Linked DNA regions of Homo sapiens: region 1 is reported to be linked to region 2. The links are microRNA targets in miRTarBase. Many come from high-throughput screens and were not tested one by one. Region 2 holds a microRNA gene; the other region holds the end of a gene's coding sequence.
Evidence for each region. Region 2 holds the annotated microRNA hsa-miR-371b-3p (AAGUGCCCCCACAGUUUGAGUGC, at 4,010-4,032, opposite strand). A microRNA usually pairs through its seed, bases 2 to 8, with sites in the 3' UTR of a target mRNA and lowers its output. Matches are read on the target gene's strand: a 7mer-m8 pairs with bases 2 to 8, a 7mer-A1 pairs with bases 2 to 7 and ends in A, and an 8mer does both.

Region 1 (7,116 bases), not on the chromosome of region 2:
ATTCTTTTATGTGCCGGCTCAGAATAGAACTTGGAATGCTTAATTCTAGAGTCAGTCAGCTGAAGGGCTCTAAGATGGGAGGGTAGGGAGGTCTATTCCAGAGCTCCTGGAAAGAGGGCAGCCATTGGTGTGGTCCAGGAAGGAGAGTAACAGGAGATCGACTGCGGAGACAAGCTCTGCTCCTGGACAGTGCCCTGCACAGTCACTCCTGTCCTCTCTGGTCCGTAATCACTCACTGTGAGGACTTCCTTGAACTCCCTCTAAGTGGAAGGAAGGAGTCAAACCAGCTGATCACTAATCCCCCTTCATTAAACTCCTGTTCTGAACTCAGGTGTTCTCATTCCTGACCGTACTTTAGAACCACCTGGGAGCTTTTGAAAAAGACCAGTGCCCTGGCCCCACCCCTAGATATGCTGGTTTAATTGGTGGGCCCTGGGAATTGGTTATTTTTAAAAAGCTCCCTTGGTGATTCTAATGTGCACCCAGACTAAATGCTATTGCTTGTGACTCCGCCCTCCCGTGCCTGCCACCAGCCTCCTTCATTTCTGGTTGTGAATCTCTTCCCCACTACAAGCTCAGCGAGCACCAGGGTCTGGCAGGACAGTGGAGCTAGTGCTTTTGTTTGAGGTCCCAGAAATAAGTCCTTTTCCCTCTTGAGCAGTGTGGCTGATGGCACTTGGCACCAACTGGAAATTCCCTCCTCTCTGCCTTGGTCTTGTTCCATCCAGGGGGTCTCTGCCATGGGGGCTGGTCCAGAGAAAGGTCGGCAGGGGCAGGGATAGGAAAGAGAGGCTACTCCTGCACAGCCCTCCTCCACCCTGTCTCCCAGAGCTGCGCGCCTCTCCCCTCACAACACTTGGCCCACCCCAGCTGCCCAGGCTTTGCTGCTGCTGCTTCCATGCGGGACCTGCCAGCCCCATCTTGGGTCCCCACACTCACCCCTGCAGACTGACTTCCTGCAACCCCAGACCCCCAGCCCACTCCCCATCCTGGAGAAGGAATGCACAAGGAATGTTCAGAGCTTTGTTTCAAAACAAGATGCAGTAAACATGGCTGCATCTGGGCCCTCCCACACTTACTGGGGTAATCGAAGGCATAGAGAGGGACGAGGGAAGTAGGACAGAGCTTCCTGCACACACCACCCCTGTCATCCAGCCCTGGACCATCTCGGCCCATCGGTGGGGCTTCAGCTGCCAAGGGTGGGGTGGCCTGTGAGATGAGGGCCTGCTCTGCAGAGGACCAGACAGGAGACTCAGTGTGGGCTGCGGGAGGATGGCAGACGCCAAGTGAGGCTGTGGGCAGGGAAAGAGGTGAAAACGGAAGCTGCCCAAGAGCCAATACCATGGCATAACAGTGGGGCCCTGGGGTTCGCCCATCAGCATTCACATCCGGACTTGGCAAATCACTAGCTGTGTAACCCAGTGCCTCAGGTTCCTCGCTGGTAATGAGAGGGTAATGACTGCACCTGTTTCTGAGTTTGAATTCAGTCATGAGGGTGAAATCAGAATCAGAATTCTGATTCTGTTAGATAAAGCATGCGAGTGCTTAGCACAAGGCGTGGAACATATTAATTACCCAATTAGTACAGCTTCTGTATAATTGTGAGGGTAGGGGTCACGTGCCCTTGTTCGTGACCTCCTGAAGCTCCAGCCCACCAGCTGTCCTTTGGGGTTGGGTCCTGGGCAGTGGAGGCCCTTCCTAGTAGCTATGTTCTTCCTCCTGAAAGGAGGGAGTATCCCTTCCTCCCCACTGACCAAAGGTCTGGTGGCTTCAGGCCAGGACTCGGTTCTGCTGGCAAGCCTGAGGGTAGGTGCAAAAGCCCACCTTCTTTCTTCCTCTCTGAGGGGGGTAACACAGACCCTGGGGCCCAGAGAACTTGGAGTTTTATCCACGGTGCCTCTGTGCAGTTGTTAGTGGGTAGAGAGCTATTATCCTAACTCCAGGAACAAAAAGTGGCCTTGGGGTCATTCAATGTAGCCAGAGAAGAAGGAATAAATGAATGAATTCTCCAGGGAAGAGGCTTAGAAGAAGAGTGAAAGAGAGGTGAGGGTGAGAGCTTGGAAGAAATGCAGCCAATCCAATCCAAGCTTTCATATCTGGCTCAGGACCAAGTTTTGGAAAGCTTGGATGGGGCCTGGCTGCTTCCATTTTCTTTATGCTCATGGCCACGGTGATTCATTTAAAGATATTATGTCTAGGCCTTGCTCATTGGAAGTGTGCTGGGCACTAGTTTTTTCAGAATGAATTAGTCACTGTTTTCATCTCCACCATGATTGCCCTCACCACCAACACCATCATCAATATCAGAGCCCTCCCCACTGCAATCCCCTTCAGTCCCTTCCTTGAATCTCATCTTTTCCTCTGGCACTATTTAAGGAGTACCATTAGAGACAGTCAGTTTTTGTTGGCAGAATGAAAAGTCAGCACTATCATCACCACCACCAGTGATGACATCATTACCACCACCAGATTCTATATCACCTCTGCCACTGATGTCACCATCACTACCACCTCCACCATCATAAATGACATCACACCTCTGCCACCAACACCGCCATATAATTAGCTTCACCACCATCACTGACATTACTACCACCATCACTGACGTCGCCGACATCACCATCACCATCACCGCCATCATCACTGACATTATTGTGTTATTGTCATGGAATTCTTGAGGTATTCCTTTCCAGCTTGAAACCTGTGTGGACAGTGACGCCTTTGCCTGAGTTTTGCTCGGGCCTACTGGGCTTGTTTGCCCACTCAGCCTGGCAGGCATTCGGCTCGCACTATTGGCCTGGAGCCCACACTTGCCAAGGGAGAGCCAGACATGGAGTGTTGAAGTGTGTGTGAACGAATGAGTGTGGGGTCTGGCCACTGCACACAGACAGCCAAGCATGCCAGCTGTGGTGGGAGGGGCAGCTCCAGATGCTGGTATGGGTGCTGGCTGCAGCTGGACCAGGAGTACCACAAACAGCATCCATGGCTGGCACAAGGGAACGCAGCGGTGCATGGAAGCTTGGAGACACCAAGAACCACAGAGCCCCAAAGACGATGTCACAGCCCTGGCTTGGGGAGCTCCTAGGTCTGGGATCCCCAAAAGGCTATAGCTCTTCTCTCCTCTCTTCTCTCCTTCCTGTCACCTGCAACATGGCAAGCAAGGGGTGGGTTTCAGCCCTCTTTGTGTTATAGCTCTTTCAACCCTGCCATTCGGTGGGTCTCAAGTTTTGTCCCACATCCAGGAAGAATGAGGTATGTGGACAAGTGGAGGGTGAGCAAGGCAAAGAGTTGCTTTATTGAGCAACAGAACAGCTCGGAGGAGACCCGCCCTGAGTAGCTCCTCTCCACAGACAGGTCATCCGGTAGTCTGCCTGAGGCTGGCTGAGTCTGGGGATTTTTATGGGCTTCAGAGGGGAGGAAGTGCATGCTGATTTGTCCATGGGTGGCCATGGGCAGACCCAGAAAAAGCCCCATAGGTTGTCACTCCAGTCTGTGGAACTGGCAGCCTGGCCCCTAGTCCTCAGACTGTCCCTGGCCTGAAGGTGGGGTTCACCAGGATCTGCCCCTTTCCACCCAGGATCTGCCTGCCTCCTGCTGTCATTAACCTGCCATCCACGGTGCCCAGGCTGTTCATGATGAGGGGTGCCTGAAGGCCCATGCCGAGCCATCCTTAGCACCCACCCCCTCAGCCTCTCTTCCATGCTTGTCGGTGCCCAAAGTCCAGAGGGGGGCCAAGAAGGCATGGGGCTGGTGTGTAAGTGCTGCCCCAGGTGTGAGCACACCTGGCCGGGTTGTGACAGCACCTGGTCTCAGCCACAGCTTTGCTCCGAAATCAGAGTGGGCACCAGGAGTGGGGAGAGGCCAGGCAGTGGGAGCAGGCAGTTCTGAGCCTGTGAGGGCATGGGGGTTTCAAGGGCCCCCAAGAGTGCAGAGATGCCTGGGTCCACAGCCATGGCAGGGTGGCTGCAGCTGTGCCAGGGAGGGTGGGGCTCCCACCCCTCCAACTTGGAAGGGGGCGGGGCTCCTGCCTGTTTCTGGCTCCCACTGGCTCCATGGAGCATGCAGCCCTCACTGCGCCTCCCCCACTGCAGCTGGCATCATGGCAGTGGCTGCTCCAGATGGGCTGCCACTGCCATCATTAGAGCAGTCCAAATGGTCTAAGACAGTACTGAATAAATGCATGCTGAAATAAACTAGACTGTCATAACACAAACTTAGGCTCTAGGATTTCAATGCTTCCTGTAGTTCTATCTCCAGAATGGACCCTACTAGAGAAAAACAACACTGGGCTGTATAAATGATAAACTAAGTGAGCCAGAGAAGGGGGAATAAATGAATGAATTATACAGCCCAGTGTTATTTTTAAGGACCTGCATAGCAGCATGGTGGGAAGATCCTAATCTACAGTCTGCTGGGCTGGGAGTACTGCAGATGAGCTGAGAGAAGCTCCACTCTTCCAAGATTGTTACTTTCATCACTCCATCACCTGGGATTTATCTGAATCTGGATCAATTTGGTGTCAAGATTGAATCCACCTCGTCCTTAAGACCTAACAGGTTTTCAAATATGCACCCTAGTAGACAAGAGGCTCCTTGCAGATAACACAGGAAATGATGTGAGGTTCAAGGAGGGGGGCTTGAGAGGGGTGGTCGGGGGAGAGGGCTCTGGGATCTGCACCCAAACTTCATCCGCTGGGCTCCTGGGAAGGACTGTGTAATAAAGGGGCTCCAGTGCTTTTAACAACAGATTTGACAGCAAGTGGTCTAGAAGATGAGTTCTTAAATGTTTGTTTTGAAATAGATGTTTGGCATTGTGTGTAGGTCCCAACCAAAAATAATCGGCCATCTGAAGTCACCAGTCTAAAAGAAGCATTAGAAAATGTTCATCTGATGTTTCTATTGATTGTTCTCTTCCCAAGGCCAAAACTAGCTCAGCAAGATGTCTTTTACTCTTGTTCTCTGCCTCTCTGGCAAAATGCAAACACAGTTTCATCCTTGGAGAACTGTCTTTCATGCGGGAACACTTATTTAAATAAACTGCCTTAGGAACATAAAAGCAAAGGAGAAGTGTAGTATATGAATTGACCCATGTGCCTCCCTGCCCAGCAAACATGAGCTCTTTAGCCATGCAGAGAAGGTGTTGCTGGGGGGACAGGCCCTCATTCTTCAGCATTCCCCCTCAACCTTCCAGCAAAGATACAGCAGCTAAGAGACTCAGAGCTGGTCCTGGATGGGAGACTGTCGCCTGAGGGGAAGGAGACCAAGCACTCATTGGGGACATAATGGCTTTGGAGTGATGGTCACTAAGAGTGCCAGGATGGGAGCAGAGGGAGGGACAGTTGGCTGAAGAGTGAGAGGGATGGCCATGCCTTACCTCTAAGGACCAGTTCACAGCAAAAGCAAGGGATCCCTCCTGCCCATGTGTAATGTCAGCCCTCCTGAAAACTTGTAGTCACTGGGCAGGGCAGTGTGTATGTGTGTGCATTCGTGTGTGTGTGTATGTGTGTATGTATGTGTGTTGCTGAGCAGCTCTGGGGGCACCCAGCCAGCCCCAACCCTTCTGCAGTTTCAGCCTTTCTGGCCCATCTACATGTCTTCCCTCAGAGGGGCCAGCTAGAGCATGGGGCAGGCTGGACAGGGGCTCAGGGCTGTGGCACAGCCTGGGGGAGCAGGTGTGATGCACCTTTTCCTCACAGAGCAACTGACTGCCTGGCCAAGGGCAAAGAGTGCATTCTCAAGAAAGATTGATCAAGACTGGAAAATAAAATGTAGCTTGAGGACACATTTGCAGGCTGATAAATGAAGGCACAATTATGAGGGAGGCTTTGAAACCAGGAAGGGAATTGCCTGCTCATCAGATAGTTCTTCCAGGCCAGCCCCTTCCACAGACTAGCAGGAAATCTCTGGAAAAAATGACTTAATTGTGTGATTGATGTGACAGGACTCAGGGGAGCAGTGGGGGTGGGGGCAGAGCCCCAGGACCAGCCTTCCTCTCAGGACCTAAGTCCAGATGAACTAATCCTTATTAAATGTGCTCAGTTTTGTCCTCCACAGGGGTCTGGAAGCCTTTCAGAGCTGGTTCTACTCTAACCATTTGTATCCAGATATGGATCCACCGCAGCCTTGGAAAACCCTCCATCAAGGAGGAGCCACTGACCCAGTCTCTTCCAGCAAGCACCCTCCCTAGTCTCAGAATGTGTCTCTCAGCCAGCCAGCCTCTCTTCCTATCGTACGACCCTGTCTCAGCCCTCATGTGCGTCCCAGCCCCTAAGGTCAAAGACATAGCATCCACCACAAACCATTATTCCAGAGGACTGTTTATATTGCAGCTGTTTTATCTACTCCCTCACTCCAGTGCCCCTGGCCTTCATCCTGCCCATCGAAGGCATCAGTCCACTGCGGGCTTTGGTGTCCTCAGAGGAAGAAATCCTTTAATGTCTGAGGAACCTAGGGAGGAGGCAGGTGGGAGGTGCACAGACATTGGTCTGTCCCTTTCATTCTTCGGTTCTTCTAAGCAGCGACATTCTCCTGAGCCTCTGGGTGCCCAGACCCACTGGGATGGACACAGGGAATGGGGGATGAGGGCCCTGCTCTCAAGTAGTACAGCCTGCTCAGGGAGGAAGGAGCTACATGTGCAAACAACGAGAAGACCATGAGGAGCAACATGCATGGGTCAGTGGTAGAGAACGTGGCACAGTCTGTGTCTCTGAAGTTGAATGCACCTGCCATGGGCTGCGTTTGGGAGATCAGGATAGGCTCTGATGAGGAGGAGGAGGAGGAGGAAGAAGAGGAGGAGGAGAAGGAAGAAGAGGAGGAGTACGAGGAGGAAGAGGAGGAGGAGGAAGAGGAGGAGGAAGAAGAGGAGGAGGAAGAAGAAGAGGAGGAGGAAGAAGAGGAGGAGGAGGAAGAAGAGGAGGAGGAGGAGGAGGAGGAAGAGGAGGAGGAGGAGGAAGAGGAGGAGGAGGAAGAGGAGGAGGAGGACACATCATTGGGGCAACTTACATCCTTCTGGATGAGCTCAGCATAAACCACGCAGGCGGCAGAGATCAGCTCATCAGCATCAAGGTCGATGAGGTTGTTGCAGGCCTGCATGGGAGTGTGGGAGCAGTTGTGGGTG
Region 2 (7,116 bases):
TATCAATTGTCAAAAAAAAAGTCAAATTGGGCCAGGCGTGGTGGCTTATGCCTGTAATCCCAGCACTTTGGGAGGCCAAGGTGAGAGGTTCGCTTGAGCCCAGGAGTTTGAGACCAGCCTAGGCAACAAAGCAAGACCAGCATCTCCCTCTCTCTCTCTCTCTTCTCTCTCTCTCTCTCTCTCTCATATATATATATATATATATGTATTTTTTTTCTTTCTTTCTTTTTCTTTTTTTGAGACGGAGTCTTGCCCTGTCACACAGGCTAAAGTGAATGGTGTGATCTCGGCTCACTGCAACCTCTGCCTCCCAGGTTCAAGCATTTCTCCCTGCCTCAGCCTCCCGAGTAGCTGGGATTACAGGCGCCCACCACCACACCGGGCTAATTTTTGTATTTTTTAGTAGAGACGGGGTTTTCTTATGTTGACCAGGCTGGTCTTGAACTCCTGACCTCAACTGATCCGCCTGCATCAGCCTCCCAAAGTGCTGGGATTACAGGAATGAGCCACTATGCCCAGCCCATCTCTATATTTTTAAACAAATTATACAACAAAAAAGTAAAATATCACATTGGATATTTTTTCTTTATTCTTTGTTTTTTTTTTTTTTTGAGACAGAGTTTTGCTCTTGTTGCCCAGGCTAGAGTGCAATGGCGCGATCTCGGCTCACCACAACCTCCGCCTCCCGGGTTCAAGCGATTCTCCTGCCTCAACCTCCTGAGTAGCATGCACCACCACCCCGGCTAATTTTGTATTTTTAGTAGAGACGGAGTTTCTCCATGTTGGCCAGGCTGGTCTTGAACTCCCGACCTCAGGTGATCCGCCCACCTCGGCCTCCCAAAGTGCTGAGATTACAGGTGTGAGCCACCGTGCCCAGCGGATCTTTTTTCTTTTCTTTTTTCTTTCTTTCCAGGGATGGGGTCTTGCTCTGTCACCTGGGCTGGAGTTCAGTGGCAGGATCAGGCCTCACTGCAGCCTTGAACTCATGGGCTGAAGAGATCCTCCCACCTCAGCTTTCCAAATTGCTGAGATTACAGGCTTGAGCCACTGCCTGCAGTCCTCTTTCAAATGCACTTAAAAATCGTCTTTGACTATACTCTTTGTTGAATGTTGATTAAATTCAATTGCACTAATAACATTTTTTATATTCAAAAATACAAACGTTGGCCGGGTGCGGTGGCTCACGCCTGTATTCCCAGCACTTTGGGAGGCCGAGGCGGGCAGATCACCTGAGTTTGAGAGTTTGAGAACAGCCTGACCAACATGGAGAAACCCCGTCTCTACTAAAAATACAAAATTAGCCGGCGTGGTGGCACATGCCTGTAATTTCAGCTATTCGGGAGGCTGAGGCAGGAGAATCACTTGAACCTGGGAGGCGAAGGTTGTGGTGAGCCGAGATCGAGCCACTGCACTCCAGCCCGGGTGGCTGAGGGAGACTCCGTCTCAAAAAAAAAAAAAAAAAGTCAGCAATGAACTCGCTGTGCTGGCCCAAGGGCAGGAGAAGAAAGCCGCCCTTAAAGGAGAAATTTGCAAAGACAAAATGAGGTGATGAGAAAAAGCCGAGTTCTAGGAAATACCCGAGAGATCATCCAGGTGGTTCACAAATAGCAGAAAATCCAGGTGCAGTGTGAGAGGAGTGAGTAGGTTAGATAGGAATCTGGATGGCTGAGCTGTAAGGACATAAGCACTGACCTCCCGCAACCTTGACAAAGATCAAAGCAAGAATTTTTTTTTTTTTGAGATGGAGTCTGGCTCTATCACCCAGGCTGGAGTGCAGTGGCGTGATGTGAGCTCACTGCAACCTCTGCCTCCTGGGTTCTAGCGATTCTCGCCAAACATGCTATTTGCTGTCTCATTTCTATCTCTCGCCATCCTTTGCAGCAAATGCTGTACATTTTCATTGATGAAGGAACTAGGTTTAACCAGAAAGGTTGAGCACGTACTCCCGCAGCTGGCTAGGATTACAAATGGGAAGGAAACCCTGGCCTCCTGGGGCCCCAAGTCTTCCCCTTCCTTGAGTCATTCATTATTTTGAGCACTTACCATTTTCAAGCCCCTCCTCACCTCTCCAACACCCACCTTTTTGAGTTCCTCTCTATGCCTCAAGGTCAAAGGAACTCTAGTGGTTTCATTAAATAAAATCAGAAATGTTTCCGCTTTTTTATCAAAGTTGCTCTCAAAAATGTTCACTGCCGCACTGTTTTTTTCTTTTCTCCCTCTCTTTTTTTTTTTGAGACTAAGTCTCACTCTGTCGCCCAGAATGGAGTGCAGTGGTGTGATCTCGGCTCACCGCAACCTCCACCTCCAGGGTTCAAAGGATTCTCCCACCTCAGCCCCCTGAGTAGCAGGGATTATAGGTGTGAGCCACACCGCACCCAGCTTTTTTATTTTTTTAAAATTTATTATTATTATTTTTGAGATGGAGTCTCACTCTGTCACCCAGGCTGGAGTGCAGTGGGGCGATCTTGGCTCACTGCAACCTCTGCCTCCTGGGTTCAAGCAATTCCCCTGCCTCAGCCTCCCGAGGAGCTGGGACTACAGGTATCCACCACCACGCCGAGCTAATTTTTGTATTTTTAGTAGAGACCATGTTGGCTAGGATGGTCTCGATCGCTTGACCTCGTGATCTGCCTGCCTCGGCCTCCTGAAGTTCTGGCATTATAGGCATGAGCCACTGTGCCCAGCCTATTTATTTATTTTTTGAGACACGGTCTCACTCTGTCCCCAGGCTGGAATGCAGTGGCACAATCTTGGCTCACTGCAACCTCTGCCTCCCGGGTTCAAGCAATTCTCTTGCCTCAGCCTCCCAAGCAGCTGAGATTACAGGTGCACACCACCATGCGTGGGTAATTTTTGTATTTTTTTGGTAGAGACGGGGTTTCGCCATGTTGCCCAGGCTAGTCTCGAACTCCCGGCCTCAAGTGATCGTCCGCCTCGGCCTCCCAAAGTGCTGGGATTACAGGTGTGAGCCACTGCGCTCTGCCAAAATACTATATTTAAATATTTGTTGAGTGGATGACTGGTGGAATGATTTTCTTCTGGTTATTTCTCTGTGTTTTCCAATGTATTTATAACGAATACATGTTGGCGTTACTAGTAATAGGGATCACCTAATTTCTATTTGAATCAGTGTTTGAAAAAGTTTATGAAGGTGTGTCTGACTAAGGCAAGCTAGGATCAAAGGGAGCAGGGTGGCTTGGGGCGGAGACCAGGGGGAATGAGAGGGTGGGAAGGGGTGGGCTTTAATCCTATCAAAGTTGAGTGGGCTCTCACCCTATATAAGAACGCAGCTGCAGTGAACCTTGTTCTTTCTGGCAGACCTGAGGTGTGGACGTATCATTGGCCTCTGTGAGTATTGCTATGTTATTTTATTTTCTTTCATTTTACTTTATTTTTTAGGGTCAGGATCTCACTGTCGCCCAGGATGAAGTGCACAGGTAGGATGATGGCGCCTTGCAGCCTCGACCTCCTGGGACTCACCCTTTTAGCCTCCAGTAGCTGGGACCACAGGCGCGCACCACCATTCCCATGTGCGTTTTTCTGCTTTTTTTTTTTTTTTTTTAGGAGAGATGGGGTTTTCTATGTTATCCAAGCTGGTCTCGAACTCCTGGGCTCAAGAGCAATCCTACCACCGTAGCCTTCCGAGTAGCTGGGACTACAGGCTTGAGCCACTCCGCCCAGCCGGGCTGTACTTTTGTTCTATTTCTGTGATTTTTTTTCAGTCTTAAGGACGAAGGCCCCACTGTCCCTCACACGTGTTCCTTCCTACTTGCATTGTACTCAGTCCTCATGGCTTGCATCTGGAGGCTATGGGCGGGGGAGTGCTTTGAATATCTATACGTGGAAAGCCTTGTTTTTTACTTTTTAAGAAAGGGTCGTTAAATTCGTGCTTTGTAGACCTTCAACAGCTCATCAAGGGCTACTCTCCACCTCCTTGCTTAAAAGCCTCTTCTGATGGGTAAGTGCTTCCACTTGCGATCGCCGCCTTGCCGCATCCCCTCAGCCTGTGGCACTCAAACTGTGGGGGCACTTTCTGCTCTCTGGTGAAAGTGCCGCCATCTTTTGAGTGTTACCGCTTGAGAAGACTCAACCTGCGGAGAAGATACCATTTTGATTGGGTGAGGGGGCGGGTAGCAGGATGGCCCTAGACCCTGCCTATGGCCGTTTCCTCGTGATATAAATTTCTTGGCCGGGGCTCTTGCAGATGGAGCTGCTCACCCTGTGGGCCTCAAATGTGGAGCACTATTCTGATGTCCAAGTGGAAAGTGCTGCGACATTTGAGCGTCACCGGTGACGCCCATATCAACGGATGCCGTGGAGCTCGGTCTTCTGCAGGAACTAAAGAGCCTGTGGTTTCGATTCCCAGCCGGAAACTGTCTTGGGTACAGGTCCCTTACAGCGTCTGGCTGTAATGGCTCCGGAAAACCTGGGGAAGGGAAGGGGGCCTCCTGGGCTCTCACCTGACACAACTAAGGGAATCTGGGTTAGATGGTGAAAGGAAGAGAAGGTTCAGAGGGCGGCTGTGCGCCTGCGCCGGGCGCGGCGGCTCACACCTGTAATCCCAGCACGTTGGGAGGCCGAGGCAGGCGGATCACGAGGTCAGGAGATCGAGACCATCCTGGCTAACACGGTGAAACCCCGTCTCTACTAAAAATACAAAAAATGAGCCGGGCGTGGTGGCGGGCGCCTGTAGTCCCAGCTACTTGGGAGGCTGAGGCAGGAGAATGGCGTGAACCCGGGAGGCGGAGTTTGCAGTGAGCCGAGATCGCGCCACCGCACTCCAGCCTGGGCGACAGAGCAAGACTCATTCTCAAAGAAAAAAAAAAAAAAAAACAGCAGCTGTGACCAAGGGGCTGTATGCACAAAGAAAGGAATGCTTTTTGCTGTTGGTGTTATAATTGATATGTAACTTTCCTCTTCCCCCATAGCAAGCAAGTTTATTGCTGACATTTAACATGTGCTTGGATGATTGGAGGCCAACCTCTTGTAGGCAAGAAAGTCACAGTGATGGCAGATCCTCGCGAGGAGCTCATACTGGGATACTCAAAATGGGGGCGCTTTCCTTTTTGTCTGTACTGGGAAGTGCTTCGATTTTGGGGTGTCCCTGTTTGAGTAGGGCATCACGAACCATCCTGCTTCAAGGGAGCCTGCGGGTCTGACTGCAGCTTCAGCTATGACCTGGAGTTCCCGGGCTTCTCTGCGGGGCACCAGTCTGTATGCTCCATTTTAGATAATAAAAATTGGCATATTCTGGGGTGGGCAGGATACGGGGTTCACCTGCAGATGAACAGGGCAGGAAAAGCTTGATGGGGTGTCGGGGGAATCTGGTTGGCCTTAAAGGGAATTTGGGGTCCTGTTCCTGAATTTGGTAGGCAGCATGCATGTAAGGCTTGAAGTGGGTTTGGCCAGAGCATGGGCTGGAGTGCTTCCACCCTGCTACACGGACAATGCCACAGTCTCACTTTTCCTAACTTTTTTTTTTAATAAAATGTGAACAACATCATGTGTTTCTGGTCTATTGGGTTCCTCTGCCACCCACAAGTGCTGGGATTACAGGCATGAGCCTCATGTCTGGCGTTACTGAACCTTCTTCTATGACCCAAGTACATTGCCTAAAAATACTTGTCAGTATTTTGTGCTTCCCTTCTACCCCTGCTAGAACTTAGAGTTATGCTCTTTGAGAGTTCTGCTCTTTAAACTTCAAACAAGTTTAAAAAGTAAGGCCGGGCACAGTGGCAGCACTGCCGAGGCCGACGCAGGCTGATCATGAGGTCAGATCAAGACCATCCTGGCTCACACGGTGAAACCACATCTCTACTAAAAAATACAAAAACATTAGCCGGGCATGGCGGTGGGTGCCTGTAGTCACAGGCTGAGGCAGAAAGGGCATGAACCCGGGAGGTGGAGCTTGCAGCCAGCCGAGGTTGTGCCACTGCACTCCAGCCTGGGTGACAGCGATAACTGTCTCAAAAAATAAAAACCACCCAGGCTGAAGTGTGGTGGCACCATCACAGCTCCCTGCAGGCCTGAGCTCCCTAGATCAAAAGATCTTCCCATATAAGCCCCCCCTCACCCCACCCTTAGTAGCTGGCACCACAGGAGTGTCCCCGCCATGCTCCACTAATGTTTAGTAGAAATTGGGGTCTCATACATTGGCCAGCTTGGTCTGAAACTTAGGGGGAATCAAACATCCCTCCTTTAGTAGAGATGGGGCTTTACTGTCTTGCCCTGGGTGGCCTCCCTGGGATGATGGGTGTGAGCCACAGTGCCAGGCCTAAGTTCATATTTGGAAGGTTTTTTTGCTTCAGATGGTCTCGTGCTCTCGCTCAGGTTGGAGCGCAATGGCGCAATCTTGGTTCACTGCAACCTCTGCCAGCTTAAGCGATTCTCCTGCCCCCGCCTCCCAAGTAGCTGGGATTACAGGCATAAGCCACCACGCCTGGCTAATTTTTTGCATTTTTTAGAGATGGGATTTCTCCACGTTGGCCAGGCTGCTCTGGAACTCCTGACCCCAGGTGATCCACCCACCTCGGCCTCCCAAAGTGCTGGGATTATAGGCGTGAGCCACCACGTGGGGCCTTCAGTAGGTTCTTAGTTGCTGTTTGCCCTATCACTGGTTTCCGGGTCTGCTGGCCACTATCCCCTGTAAGTTTTCCTATCCCCTGTAGGTGTTCCAAACCCTTGCGGCTGCTTTGCCCACTCCACAGTATCTGAACTGAAGTAAGATCTCAAATTCAAGGGAGTTTTGTTTTGCTATTTGTACCCGCAATTCATAAAGCAGTTGTAGCCTCTGTCCCAATACCGCCACCACTGGTGGGGAGTCCGCCACGGTAACCAGTAAGACTTCTCTTTATATTTGACCTACCTGGGCCTCCTGTCATCTTTTCTACGGGCAGCTTGGGGATTGTTAGTTGAGGGTTTTTTGTTTTTGTGTTTTTTTTTTTGTTTTTTTTTTTTTTTAAAGAGATGGAGTCTCGCTCTGTCGCCAGACTGGAGTACAATGGCATGATCTTGGCTCACTGCAACTTCCACCTCCCAGGTTCAAGCGATTCTTTTGCCTCAGCCTCCCGAGTAGCTGGTATTATAGGCACCCACCACCATGCCCAGCTAATTTTT

Region 1: miRTarBase lists TBC1D21 as a target of hsa-miR-371b-3p. Seed matches in the 3' UTR shown: 7mer-m8 at 6,353-6,359.

Annotation. Positions count from the first base shown.
Region 1 is chr15:73,888,399-73,895,514 of GRCh38, reverse strand. TBC1D21 (TBC1 domain family member 21) reads right to left here. Exons shown (of 11, transcript NM_153356.3): 10 at 7,002-7,085; 11 at 6,301-6,446. The coding sequence ends at 6,414. Among named protein-coding and RNA genes, the nearest start is that of TBC1D21, 18 kb to the right of the region's middle.
Region 2 is chr19:53,783,669-53,790,784 of GRCh38, forward strand. MIR371B (microRNA 371b) reads right to left here and starts at 4,074; the gene lies at 4,009-4,074. It overlaps MIR371A (microRNA 371a), which reads left to right and starts at 4,007; the gene lies at 4,007-4,073. MIR372 (microRNA 372) reads left to right here and starts at 4,222; the gene lies at 4,222-4,288. MIR373 (microRNA 373) reads left to right here and starts at 5,037; the gene lies at 5,037-5,105. It also overlaps LOC124904767.